Homo sapiens: one gene and its partner. The protein of the gene in region 1 interacts with the protein of each later gene in a pairwise test. Each region holds a gene or a part of one and is shown in the gene's direction. Other genes may lie near its edges.

Evidence for each region. Proteins that work in one complex are often made in the same cells at the same time.
Region 2: the proteins of TSKS (region 1) and TPM3 interact in binary tests that used the Homo sapiens proteins (3 or more experiments, as listed by UniProt).

Annotation. Positions count from the first base shown.
Region 1 is NC_000019.10:49,739,265-49,746,443, reverse strand, and holds the end of TSKS (testis-specific serine kinase substrate), read left to right. Parts: intron 1-1,047; coding exon 1,048-1,242; intron 1,243-2,039; coding exon 2,040-2,213; intron 2,214-4,423; coding exon 4,424-4,559; intron 4,560-6,260; coding exon 6,261-6,385; intron 6,386-6,511; coding exon 6,512-6,668; 3' UTR 6,669-6,684; downstream 6,685-7,179. UniProt on the Homo sapiens protein: May play a role in testicular physiology, most probably in the process of spermatogenesis or spermatid development.
Region 2 is NC_000001.11:154,161,180-154,168,146, reverse strand, and holds the end of TPM3 (tropomyosin alpha-3 chain), read left to right. Parts: intron 1-206; coding exon 207-210; 3' UTR 211-6,334; downstream 6,335-6,967. UniProt on the Homo sapiens protein: Binds to actin filaments in muscle and non-muscle cells. Plays a central role, in association with the troponin complex, in the calcium dependent regulation of vertebrate striated muscle contraction.

The DNA of each region.
Region 1 (7,179 bases):
CGAAAACGAGATCGGCGGGGACTCAGGGGTGGAGCCTCGAGGAGATGCGGTGGGCGGGACCCAAGGGACGGGGGTTCTCAAGTAGCTGAGGTGGGCGGTGACATGGGTGGAGCCTCGGGGACCTGAGGTGGGCGGGAACATGGGAGGAGCCTCGAGGAACGAAGGTGGGTAGAGACACGGGAGGAGTCTCCAGGAGCTGCGGTGGGCGGGGACACAGGGGAGGTTCCTCAAAGATCGTTTTTTGTTTTGTTTTGTTTTTTTTGAGGCGGAGTCTCGCTTGTCGCCCAGGCTGGAGTGCAGTGGCGCCGTCTTGGCTCACTGCAAGCTCCGCCTCCCGGGTTCACGCCATTCTCCTGCTTCAGCCTCCCCAATAGCTGGGACTACAGGCGCCCGCCACCACGCCTGGCTATTTTTTTGTATTTTTAGTAGAGACGGGGTTTCACCGTGTTAGCCAGGATGGCCTCGATCTCCTGGCCTCGTGATCCGCCCGCCTCGGCCTCCCAAAGTGCTAGGATTACAGGCGTGAGCCACCGCGCCCGGCCTAGATCTTAACCGGAAGGCGACAAGGCTGGGGTCTCCAAGAGCAGAGGAGGGAGTGCCCCGAAGGCAGTGACCTGAGCAAGGGAGGGACAGAATAAGGAACTTTTTAGTTCTGGGCTGCTGGGAGGCAGGTCCAGGCCTGGTGAAACTGAGGTGGGCGGGGCTTAGGAGAGGAGTGGTCCTGGAGGCACCACGTGGGGCAGAGTAGGGTGGGCAGTGCCTTGGGGGGCCAGTGTCTGGAGGAGCCCAGGTAGAGGTTGGGGACCTGACCAGGAAAGGGCCAAGATAGCCAATAAAGGAAGGGGATAAAGGCGGGGCTCTGGAGGACACGACCAAATTTCACCAAATGGAGGGTGCAATAAAATTTGGTGACCTGGGTGGGTCTGGAGCCACGGGCATGGTCTCAGTGGGGCGAGATAGGTGAGTCCTGTCCCACCTATCTCGTGGGGGTAGGTGGGGACCTGTTGAAGCCTAGCCCCTACCCATTCCCCTCCTCTGCCCCTCCAGGAGAGAGGTGTCCTCACTGACCGCCCGGTGGCATCAGGAGGAGGGGGCGGTGCAGGAAGCCCTGCGGCTGCTCGGGGGCCTGGGCGGCAGGGTCGACGGCTTCCTAGGCCAGTGGGAGCGGGCACAGCGCGAACAGGCACAGACGGCGCGGGACTTGCAGGAGCTGCGAGGTCGGGCGGATGAGCTGTGCACCATGTGAGGATTGGGGCCAGTGCATGGGAAGACCGGAAGGGGCAGGGCAATCCCAACCTGAGGGCGGGGTCTTGAGGGAAATGGGTAGGCCAATCAGCTATGGCCAGGCATTCCGGAACATATACCGACATCGGGAAACACCAATTAGAGAGCAGGAAGGGTTGCATCAGCCCTAATAAGGCCTGAGGGGTGGAATCAATTAGAGAAGGGGTGTGGTCTATACCTTAAAAGGGCAAAGGGTGGGGTCAAGTGGGATCCGAGAAAATCAATTAAGAGAACTAGGAGGGGCATTCCAAACAGTAATCTACAAAAGGTGGCCCAGTGAGGTGGCTCACATCTATAATCCCAGCACATTGGGAGGCCGACGTGGGCGGATTACTTGAGGCCAGGAGTGCAAGACAAGCCTGGGCCACATAGCGGAGACCCCATCTCTACAAACAATTTAAAAATTAGCTGGGAGTGGTGTGGTGTCGCACCCTGGTAGTCCTAGCCACTCGGGAGGCTGAGGCAGGAGTGATCGCTTGAGCCCAGGAGTTCAAAGCTTCAGAGAGCTATGATGGTGCTGCTGCACTCCAGCCTGGGCCACAGAGCCAGACCCTGGCTCAAAATAGTCAACAGATAAATAACATAACATAAAGTAAAATACAAAAAGTGAGGCCAGTCAGAGCAGAGAGGGGAGGGCAGGGTGGAGAATTGCTGACCAGATGGAGACGCAAGTGGTGGGCTAATAATGGGTGGAGTCTTGCCAGGGTTATACCGCTGAAGAGACGACCCAGCAGCACTGGTTACTCATGCCTCAGGGTGGAGCGGTCAGCAGTGTCTGTGGCTTCACTGAGGAGCGAACTGGAGGGGCTGGGCCCACTGAAACCCATTCTGGAGGAGTTCGGGCGGCAATTTCAGAACTCTCGAAGAGGGCCTGACCTCTCCATGAACCTGGATCGGTCCCACCAAGGCAACTGTGCCCGCTGTGCCAGGTAACGGGGCTGGGCTTGCCTCTGGGAGCCTTGTGGATAGGACATTAAAGGAGATGCGGAAGGAGATGGGACATTAGTGAAGGGTGGGGCGCTGTTCATTTTGGGAGACAAGGTATCCCAGTGCATTGTAGAAACAGCCGGTCCTGCTGCACTAGAAGCCTCATTTGTTCCCACTCTACAAGGTAGAATCAGTGTCTTGTGGAACTCAAGAGAAACTTGGTACAGGCCGGGCGCGGTGGCTCTCGCCTGTAATCCCAGCACTTCGGGAGACCAAGGTGGGCGGATCACTTGGTGTCAGGAGTTCGAGACTAGCCTGGCCAACGTGGTGAAACCCCGTATCTACTAAAAATACAAAAATTAGCTGGGCGTGGTGGCGCGTGCCTGTAATCCCAGCTACTCAGGAAGTTGGGGCATGAAATTCACTTGGACCAGGCTGGGCGCGGTGGCTCATGCCTGTAATCCCAGCACTTTGGGAGGCCAAGGCAGGCAGATCACAAGGTCAGGAGATCAAGAGCATCCTGGCTAACATGGTGAAACACCGTCTCTACTAAAAATACAAAAAAAAATTAGCTGGGCGTGGTGGCGGGTGCCTGTAGTCCCAGCTACTAGGAAGGCTGAGGCAGGAGAATGGCGTAAATCCGGGAGGTGGAGCTTGCAGTGAGCTGAGATCATGCCACTGCACTCCAGCCTGGGAGACAGAGTGAGACTCCATCTCAAAAAAAAAAAAAAAAAAAAAAGAAATTCACTTGGACCCGGGAGGCGGAGGTTGCAGTGAGCCGAGATCACGCTACTGCACTCCAGCCTAGTAGGTAGAGTGAAACTGTGTCTCAATAAAATAAAAATAAAATAAAAAGGGTGGACGCAGTGGCTCACACCTGTTATCCCAGCACTTTGGGAGGCCAAGACGGGCAGATCACTGAGGTCGGGAGTTTGAGACCAGCCTGGCCAACATGGTGAGACCCCATCTCTACTAAAAATACAAAAATTAGCTGGGTGTGGTGGTGAGCACCTGTAATCCCAGCTACTTGGGAGGCTGAGGCCAAAGAATCTCTTGAACCTGGGAAGTGGAGGGTGCAGTGAGCCAAGATCGTGCCATTTCACTCCAGCCTGGGCGACAGCAAGACTCCATCTCAAAAAAAAAAAAACACTTAGTACATTTTAAGCATCATATTTCCAGTGCATTGTGGGAAGGCTGGGATGTGAACATGAGGAGAGGCAGGGTTTCAGTGCACTGAGGGGGAAGTGAGACCTTGGTGTATTGTGAGAGCCGAGGGATACACCATTTTTGGCCCATTGTGGGAAGGTCCATTGTAGGAAAGGGGGACTCACAGTACAACATGAAATCGAGTTTCACTAGTGTATTATGGGAAATGTTAGTTCTTGACGGCCTTTGCAAACTGAGGGCTGTCTGGTGCCCTTAGGAATAGTGACTCTGGCTGGGCGTGGTGGCTTACGCCTGTAATCCCAGCACTTTGGGAGGCCAAGTGGGAGGATCACCGGAGGTCAGGAGTTTAAGACCGGCCTGGCCAACATGGTGAAACCCCATATCTACTAAAAACACAAAAATTAGCTAGGCGTGCTGGCGGGTGCCTGTAATACCTGCTACTCAGGAGGCTGAGGCAGGAGAATCGCTGAACTCAGGAGGCAGAGGTTGCAGTGAGCCAAGATGGTGCCACTGCACTCCAGCCTGGGTGACAGAGCGAGACTCCATCTCAAAAAAAAAAAAAAAAAAAAGGGCCGGGCCCGGTGGCTCATGCCTGTAATCCCAGCACTTTGGGAGGCCGAGGTGGGCAGATCACGAGGTCAGGAGATCAAGACCATCCTGGCCAACATGGTGAAACCCCGTCTCTACTAAAAATACAAAAATTAGCCGGATGTGGCGGCACATGCCTGTAGTCCCAACTACTTGGGAGGCTGACGCAGGAGAATTGTTTGAACCCGGTAGGTGAAGGTTGCAGTGAGCCAAGATTGCGCCACTGCACTCCAGCCTGGGTAACAGAGCCAGACTCCGTCTCAAAAAAAAAAGGAGTAGTGATCCCCAGAGCACCATGGAAACCAAGGGACAGCTGGTGCACAGTGCATGCTGGGAAGGTTGCATAGGGTGCATACTGGAAACGAGGCCAAATGGAGGCTCCACAGGTGAGCATGGGGCATGGGGCGTCCTGGAGTTGGTACTGGGCCTCTTTATCTGGTGACCGCCCCTCCCCCAGCCAGGGGTCGCAGTTGTCTACGGAGTCCCTGCAGCAGCTGCTGGACCGAGCACTGACCTCACTAGTGGACGAGGTGAAGCAGAGGGGCCTGACTCCTGCCTGTCCCAGCTGTCAGAGGCTACACAAGAAGATTCTGGTACCAGGGAATATGGGCCACCATGTCCCACTTTACTTTTCTGTTGGGGCAAGGGGAGGGGAACCCCGGACTCAAGGGTACTGCTGGTGTGTGGCAGAAGGGGAAGGGCTGAGCTGGGAGCAGCAGGCACTGGGGGAGGACTTGGCCCTAATGCATGGGGAGATGGACAAGCAGTTTGGTGGTGAGTGAGTCACAGGCCAATCATTACGCTACCTCGGAAGATGGACTTGGGCCTAAAGCATGATAGGACGTTGGATCTAGTGCATTGTGGGACACGAGACAGACACCAGTCTAAAGCTTCATGGAACATAGGCCTGATTTTCTCTAAACTTTTAGAGAGGCGGTGCATTGTACAAGATCATTGGGGTCAGCTATATTGAGGTAAAATAGGAGACCCAGTGACTGTAGGCCCCAGTTAGCTGATGCGTTATGGGAAATGGAACCACAGCTCTTCCTGGGGCATTGCACAACACACTCAGCCCAATAGTTGGTGGAACTTGAGCCCTAGTGCACTGTATTATGGGATATTGACCTAATGTACTATAGGATTATGTTGTAGTGGGTGAGACAGACAAGTGAGGCACTGTGGGACATTGATGTGGCCGAGCTATAGGACTAATACATGAGAGGAAATGGGGCTTGGTGCAGTTGTACGTAGAGAACCAGGGCACTAAGGACTGTTTTTTGTTTGTTTGTTTGTTTGTTTTGAGATGGAGTCTCGCTCTGTCGCCCAGGCTGGAGTGCAGTGGCGCAATCTCGGCTCACTGCAAGCTCTGCCTCCTGGGTTCACGCTATTCTCCTGCCTCAGCCTCCCAAGTAGCTGGGACTACAGGCGCCTGCCACCATACCTGGCTAATTTTTTGTGTTTTCAGTGGAGACAGGGTTTCACCGTGTTAGTCAGGATGATCTCGATCTCCTGATCTCGTGATCCGCCTGCCTCAGCCTCCCAAAGTACTGGGATTACAGGCGTGAGCCACTGCGCCCGGCCTTTTTTTTTTTGGAGACAGAGTCTCGCTCTGTTGCTCCAGGCTGGAGTGCAGTGGCGCCATCTTGGCTCGTTGCAACCTCCACCTCCCAGGTTCAAACGATTCTCGTGTCTCAGCCTCCTGAGCAGCCAGGATTACAGGCATACACCACCACGCCCAGCTAATATTTGTAGTTTTAGTAGAGATGGGGTTTCACCCTGTTGGCCAGGCTGGTCTCGAACTCTTGACCTTAAGTGATCCACCCGTGTCGACCTCCCAAAGTGCTGGGATTACAGGCGTGAGCCACTGCGCCCGGCCAGGACTTTTGTGTGAGAGGTGCTGGTCTAATGGATAAGGAGATGTGGGGTCTTCCAAATTATGGAATGTAGGAGGTCACCATGTGGTAGAATACTGGGGTGCACACACATATCAAATGTAGGATAGTTCATGAGCTTAGGAGACAGACGATAGGCACTGATTTAGTGCTTGCTGGGACATAGGTCAGTGCATCATGGGACAGACAATAGGACAGACACAGATTTAGTCCACAGCGGAATCTGGAGACCAGTGCATTGTGGGATGCTGGGGTCAGTCTCAAGCTCAAGGCATGATGGGAAACTCTGAGGGAGAAATGTGGGCCCCATGGGACCCTACCCTTTGCCCTCCGCAATCCAGTTCCCCCTCCACCCCCAGCCCAGTCCAGCAAGCCCAGCTACGCCTACGCTCCTCTCCCCAGGAGCTGGAGCGCCAGGCCTTAGCCAAACACGTCAGGGCAGAGGCCCTGAGCTCCACCCTTCGGCTGGCCCAAGACGAGGCCCTGCGGGCCAAGAACCTACTGCTGACAGACAAGATGAAGCCAGAGTGAGGAAGGAGGCTGAGGGCATGGGAGGAGGGTGAGATCTTGGGGAAAGGGCCTGATCTCCCCTTCCACTCCAACACCCCAGCACCTAGCCATGCCGCCATCAACTCCCCGCTGCCTCATGACAGGGAGAAGATGGCCACTCTGGACCATCTACACTTGAAGATGTGCTCCCTCCACGATCATCTCAGCAACCTGCCACTTGAGGGGTCCACGGGAACAATGGGGGGAGGCAGCAGTGCAGGAACCCCCCCAAAACAGGGGGGCTCAGCCCCTGAACAATAAATGGCCTCTCATGCTAGCATGAATTCTGTCTGCTTTTTGGGACCAGAGTCCTAGTGAATTGCACACACACCATGCACTCCCTCTATGCCCAATGTGATTTATTTATTTTAATTAATTAATTAACTTTATTATTCTTTTTGAGACAGATTCTCACTCTGTCGTCCAGGCTGAAGTGCGTGTGATCTCGGCTCACTGCAACCTCCACATCCTGGGTTCAAGCAATTCTCCTGTCTCAGCCTCCCGAGTAGCTGGGATTACATTCGCACACCATCATGCCTGGCTAAGTTTTTGTATTTTCAGTAGAAACAAGGTTTCCCCATGTTGCCCAGGCTGGTCTCAAACTCCTGAGCTCAGGCAATCTGTCTGCCTTGGCCTCCCAAAGTGCTAGGATTACAGGTGTGAACCACCACACCCAGCCCACTGTGATTTATTTAATTTTCAGCAAACAGGATGTCGTGGTCCCCACAGAGGTGCTGGTGGTGGTACAGTTCTTTGAGATGGCAATGGTGGT
Region 2 (6,967 bases), on another chromosome or scaffold:
ATCCCTGATCCTTGATGCTAATCTGCCTCTTTGTATCTTTCCCACTAACCCTGAAAAGAAGCCACATTTCTCAGGCTGAAGTGTCTGGCTCTCTTTTATTATTCCTGCTGCCACCTCTTCCTTTTTTTCCTCTTCCTTTTTCCCAGTTTGCTATCTAGATTGATGCTAGTCCTTCTCACCTAGAGTATCCTTACTTTTTCATACAGATAATTATCACCGTTTCTGCTCTGTTCTGGATCTGCCCCCTTTACTCCTCGGGGAACCCAAGGCCCCACTCTCGCTCTGGATTCCATTTGGGTCAGCCTGGCTGGTCCCCAAGGCATTAGGATGGGGGAGCAAAAAGCAACTTATGTATTTTCTTCCACCCCCACCCCAAATTAAAATGTTAAGCTGCTGGAAACCTCATGCCACCCTGCATTTGTGTCATTGACAAAGCTGTTGCTGTCCCTAAGAAGGAGCCTTGGGGGTGTGATGTGGGGAAGAGCTATTGTAGGCTCCCCCTCCTCTGACTTATGTAATCAAAGCCACTTTTGTGTGTGTCTATTTTTTCTTGACATTTAAACTCAGCTGATCTGATTCTACCAGAGTGATGGATTTAGTACAGGTTACTCAGGATAGTAATTTTAGTTATACTCCTCAAGCTGAACAAGATTAAATTCCTTATTTCCAGGTTCTTAAATCATCCTGCCTGCAGTGTTTCCATTCTCTCTTCAGGTATTCCTCCTTTGGTGTGGTGTCATTGAGAAGCCATTGAAGTGACTCTCAATACACATTCTGTACCCTTTTACCGGTGGTTCAAATGGTGCATCCTCAGAACACCCAGTGAACCCAATACATTATTGCTAAGATTGACTAATTATGTCAACTCCAGTCACAGAAAAATACACAATGGATAGAATTCTGGACGGTTTTTTTACTTTTTCTTCTTTAAACCTTTCTTACATATTTGAGACTTGCTACCATTTGCCTGCTAGTGTGTGACTAGTGGGATATAAGATAAGTGATAAATTATTATTGGGAAAACTAAAATGACCAATCATGCATATTTCAAATAATGTGCATATGAGGCTAATGATTTATTACATACATAAATTTCTGCTAGTAAAATTTTCCTTGGTTCATATTGTGGAATTAAATATCAACATTTTAGAAATTCCCATTATAGGCCGGGCGTGGTAGCTCACGCCTATAATCCCAGCACTTTGGGAGGCTGGGGCAGGTGGATCACCTGAGGTCATGAGTTCGAGACCAGCTCGGCCAACATGGTGAAACCCCGTCTCTACTAAAAATACAAAAATTAGCTGGGCATGGTGGGTGGGTGCCTGTAATCCCAGCTACTCGGGAGGCTGAGGCAGGAGAATCGCTTGCACCTGGGAGGCGGAGGTTGCAGTGAGCGGAGATCGCGCCACTGCATTCCAGCCTGGGCAACAGAGAGACTCCATCTCAAAAAAAAAAAAGGAATTCGCATTCCAATTTACACAGCAGAGATTTCTTAATAGTATAGCTGTGAATTATACTAATCCAAGCACGTAAGTGTTGTTCACTTAGTACTTTAGTTTCCCAGCAGGGTATGTATTTAAAATTTGCTTTTCTTTTAGCTGGGTGCAATGGCACTTGCCTGTACTGCCTGTAGCTTCTTGGGAGGCTGAGGCAGGAGGATTGCTTGAGCCCAGGAGTTCTGCACTGTAGTGTGCTATGCAGGTCAGATGTCCTCACTAAATTTGGCATCAGTATGGTGACCTCCTGGGAGTGGAGAACAACAAGGTTGCCTAAGAAGGGGTGAACTGGCCCAGGTCGGAAATGGAGCAGGTCAAAATTCCTGTGCTGATCAGTAGTGGGATTGCACCTATAAATAGCCACTGTAGTACTCCAGCCTGGGCAACACAGCAAGATTCCATCTGTTAAAAACACTTTTGCTCTTCTTTTAAACAGATATAATCAGGTAGGGAAGTTTTCCTTAATCTAAAACTTTAAGTCATATCAAATTCACGTTTCCTTTTGTCCATTCCATTTCTTACTGCCGCATAGCCTTTGAGATTAAGGTTCAGATTCATTTATTCAGCTGACACTTCCTGGTATCTTCTAGGTATAGGATATTAAGATGGAGACAGAAATAAAGATGGAGGCACCATTCCTACTCTCAAGTTGCTTAGAATCTACTAGGAGAGAAAACATACATAAAGCTACAGATACTGTGTGATGAATGCCACAAATAATAGTGTTATGGGAATTGAGTAGAGGGGACGAGATTGATCCTAGTGGGAATGAATTGGAAAAACTCATGGAAGAAGGCATGTAATGGGTACTTCATAAACATGTTAAAACTTTTTTCTTTTTTTCTTTTTTTTTTTTTTTTTGAGACGGAGTTTGACTCTTGTCACCTAGGCTGGAGTTCAGTGGCCTGATCTCAGCTCACTGCAACCTCTGCCTCCTGGGTTCAAGCAGTTCTCCCACCTCAGCCTCCCGAGTAGCTGAGATCACAGGCGCCTGCCACCACACCCAGCTAATTTTTGTATTATTAGTAGAGGTGAGGTTTCACCATGTTGGCCAGGCTGGTCTGGAACTCCTGACCTCAAGTGATCCACCCACCTCAGCCTCCCAAAGTGATGGGATTACAGGCTTGAGCCACTGCGCCCAGCCAACATGTTAAACTTGCATATTCATTTTTATTGGGTTCCAAAAGTGGATTTTTGACAAGCAGAGTTGGGTTGTGGGATAGTGAATATTGAGCATTCCATTATTTATTTATTTTTCTCTTTTTGAGATGGAGTCTCGCTCTGTCACCCAGGCTGGATGGAGTGCAGTGGTGAGATCATGGCTCACTGCAACCTCTGCTTCTTGAGTTCAAGCGATTCTCCTGTCTCAGCTTCCCGAGGAGCTGTGATTACAGATACCCACCACCATGCCCAGCTGATTTTTGTATTTTTAGTACGGACGGGGTTTCAGCATGTTGGCCAGGCTGGTCGCGAACTCCTGACCTCAAGTGATCCACCCGCCTCTGCCTCCCAAAGTGTTGGGATTACAGGCGTGAGCCACTGCACCTGGCCTGAGCATTCCATTTAAAGAGAAACAAAATAATAAAGGCATTGATAGAGATGAGAAGGCCACAATAGCTCTAAAGGTAGATTTAGACAGAGTAGGGAACAGGTTGTGTCTTAAAATGAGGCTGAGGAGTTATAATTTTACTTGGAGTTAATGGGGATGCCACTGGAGATTTTGAATAGGATATGTTGTGATCTGAATAACATATAAGAAGAATTAATTTGGTAACTAATTTGCAGATTAGCAAAGTGATTCACTAACATGGTGTTTCTCACATTTCAGCCATTTATGTTACCATTTTTGATGGCTTTTTCCATATTCATTGCTGCCTACATTGTTTTCTTCAGATCTACTCATTTCCAGATTTATTTTGTTCTTACTTGACACAATTCTATTTTGAAATCAAAGTTTTGATGTGTTAGTGTTTTTTCCTAATCACATTAAAGTAACTATAGCAGTGAATACACCACACTTTGGAAAAAATTGGGTTAGGTTAATTTAGTTTTCTAGGAGAGAATAATCAGGGTCTGAGCTAGAGTAGTGGCAGGAGAGATAGCACTAAATAAAGACAGGCATTGTGAAAGGCCTGGCCACTTGATGTGAGGAGGAAAGACAAGGATGACTGGTTTTTAGAGTAGGAGAATTAGCCGGGTGCAGTGGCTCATGCCTGTAATCCCTGCACTTTAGGAGGCTGAGGTGAGAGGATTTCTTGAATCCAGGAGTTCGAGACCAGCCTGGCAATAAAGTGAGAACCTGTCTCTACAAAATATAAAAACTTAGCCAAACATGGTGGTGCGTGCCTGCAGTCCTATCTACTTGGAGGGCCGAAGCCAGAGGATCCTTTGAGCCCAGGAGTCTGAGGCTGCAGCAAGCTGTGATCACACTGCTGCACTCCATCCTGGGTGGCAGAATGAGACCCCCCCCAAAAAAAGAGTAGGAAAGTGGTGGGGTTAAAGATGTAGGGAGATCATGTTGTCCTGGTTTGGGGAGCTGGGGGAAGGGAAAGAAGATACGGCTGACAATCTGGCAGGTATCTGGGTGAAAACAAAATTCTAGGGCGTGAGGCAGAGAGGTTGACATAAGAGAGTTGGGAATCCATATGGGGTACAGGTAGTTTATGCCATGGAGGTAAATTAGAACCATGAAGGACAATTGCAAATACAAAAAAAAGAGGCCAGGCACGGTGGCTCACGCCTGTAATCCCAGCACTTTGGGAGGCCGAGGTGGGCGGATCACGAGGTCAGGAGATCAAGACCATCCTGGCTGACACGTTGAAACCCCGTCTCTACTAAAAATACAAAAAATTAGCTGGGCGTGGTTGCGGGCACCTGTAGTCCCAACTACTTGGGAGGCTGAGGCAGGAGAATGGCGTGAACCCGGGAGGCGGAGCTTGTAGTGAGCTGAGATTGTGCCACGGCATTCCAGCCTGGGTGACAGAGCAAGACTCTGTCTCAAAAAAAAATTAAACAATGAGGAAAACGTTATGTAAGAGGAGGAACCAAATGGAACTGATTGGAGGGAAAGAAGACGGTTGAGTAGTTCTTTAAAAAGTTCCGGGTTGGATGCTTTCTAGTGGTTTTTCAACAGAGAGGCTAAGAAGGAAGATAACTGAAAATGGGACATGCATTGATACTTTAGTAATTTGAGGGTACATTTTGAGTGTTAAGAAGTGAAGAGGAGGAGTCATTTTCAGGGGCAAAAGAGTGTATTGGTAGGAAGATTATATAGGCAATATAATTTACTTTAGAGCAGGGCTTTCCAACAGAACTTTTGGTAATGATGTCTAGTACATTAGCCACATGTGGCAGTCAAGCACTCAAAACATGGCTAGTGTGGCTGAGGGGCTAAAATTTAATTGTATTTCATTGTAGTTCATTTAAATTTGGCTACCTGTGGCTAGTGGCTATTATATTGGACAATGCATTTCTAAATATTCAGATCCTGGGCAGAAGTTGGCTTTGACATGAAGAAAGACTTCTTAGAAAGGAAGGAAGTAGACCGGGCATGGTGGCTCATGCCTGTAATCCCAACACTTTGGGAAGCCGAGGCAGGTGGATCACAAGGTCAAGAGATCAAGACCATCCTGGCCAACGTGGTGAAAACCTGTCTCTACTAAAAATACAAAAATTAGCTGGACATGGTGGCACATGCCTGTAGTCCCAACTACTCGAGAGGCTGAGGCAGGAGAGAAAAAAAAGAAGGAAATAAGAGGGAGATTGGGAGAAAAGTAAGGTGTTATAGCTCTGATCTGTGGTATCTCCTGTTTTCCTTGCGGTATGACTAGTGTGAGCCAAGGATAGAGACCAACAAACTGGGGTACCAAAGTGGACAATGAAGTACTATGTAATTAGTGCTAATGCTAAATTCATTCCTTTGTTTAAGGCTTAATATCCTTGCAGAAGCCATCCTGTGTTACTTGAGCCTGGACTAGTATTGGGGTGAAGTCAAGCATCAGAGTAAAACATTTGTCCCCTTAATGTTACCCCCTCTTAATTTCTAAGAACCACAGGCCCATTTTGCCCTTCCTTGTTACCATCATTGAGATAAGGAATAAGATGTAGTAACCCCAAGTTATCTGATAGGTACAACTGACCTATTCTGTTTGGCAGCTTTATCTTAGACCTATTCTGTTTGGCAGCTTTATCTTAGCCCCAACCAAATCTCTTCCTTTCACATGGTGTTGGTTGAATACTATCCAACTCCATGGGGTTGGTTTGTGTTTTTTTTTTTTTTTTTTTTTGAGACGGAGTCTTGCTCTGTTGCCCAGGCTGGAGTGCGGTGGTGTGATCTTGGCTCACTGCAAGCTCCGCCTCCTGGGTTTAAGTGATCCTCCTGCCTCAGCCTCCTGAATAGCTGGGATTACAGGCACGTGCAACCAAGCCCGGCTAATTTTTGTGTTTTTAGTAGAGACTAGGTTTCAACATGTTAGGCTGATCTCAAACTCCTGACCTCGTGATCTGCCCGCCTCGGCCTTCCAAAGTGCTGGGGTTACAGACTTGAGCCACTGCACCTGGCCATGGGGTTGTTTCTTAATTAGATATAGCTGAAAAGAACGCTAGACCAAATAGGTTCTCTGCCTTGCCTTTTCGTTTGTTTTGTTTTAGCTATTATCAGGGAACCAAAAACTTTAAGGAGCTAGTACTGGTCTTAATTTTTAATAACTAGAGATAGCAGAGTTAGAAACTAAGTTCAAAGTGAGAGAACAGCTGCATTTGTCTTTCTGACCTCATGCAATTCCTAGGAAACTCTGTGTTCTGTGATTTAGTCAGGCAATAAAATGCTCTCACTCCTTCTCTGTCTCTTTATTTCTTCCCTAAATGGAAAAGAATTGACCAGGCTGCTTTGAGGGATAAAGATCCTGATAACGCGGCTGGGTGCGGTGGCTCATGCCTGTAATCCCAGCACTTTGGGAGGCGGGCAGATCACCTGAGGTCAGGAGTTCAAGACCAGCCTGGCCAATATGGTGAAACCCCATCTCTACTAAAAAAAAAAAATGCAAAAATTACCTGGGCGTGGTGGTGGGTGCCTGTAATCCCAGCTACTCAGGAGGCTGAGGCGAGAGAATCGCTTGAACCTGGGAGGTGGAGGTTGCAGTGAACCAAAATCGTACCATTGCACTCCAACCTGGGCAACAAGAGTGAAACTCAAAAAAAAAAAAAAAAAAAAAGGATCCTGATAACATCCTTCTTTCCCAAGTGAGAATCACACAAACTAACTTGGTTATAGGTATTATCTAAATTCAGGCTGTTCACGAGATCTATATGTAATGTAACATCACAGGAAATTTGAGAGATTAGTTCACAAATTTCAACACCTGTTATTTTGACAAGGACGCCCCAGTGAATAAGACAGGTCCAATCTCAGGCCTCATGAAGCTTATATACCATTAGTATAGTTTTGAGTATTCCTTATTCAAAATGCTTGG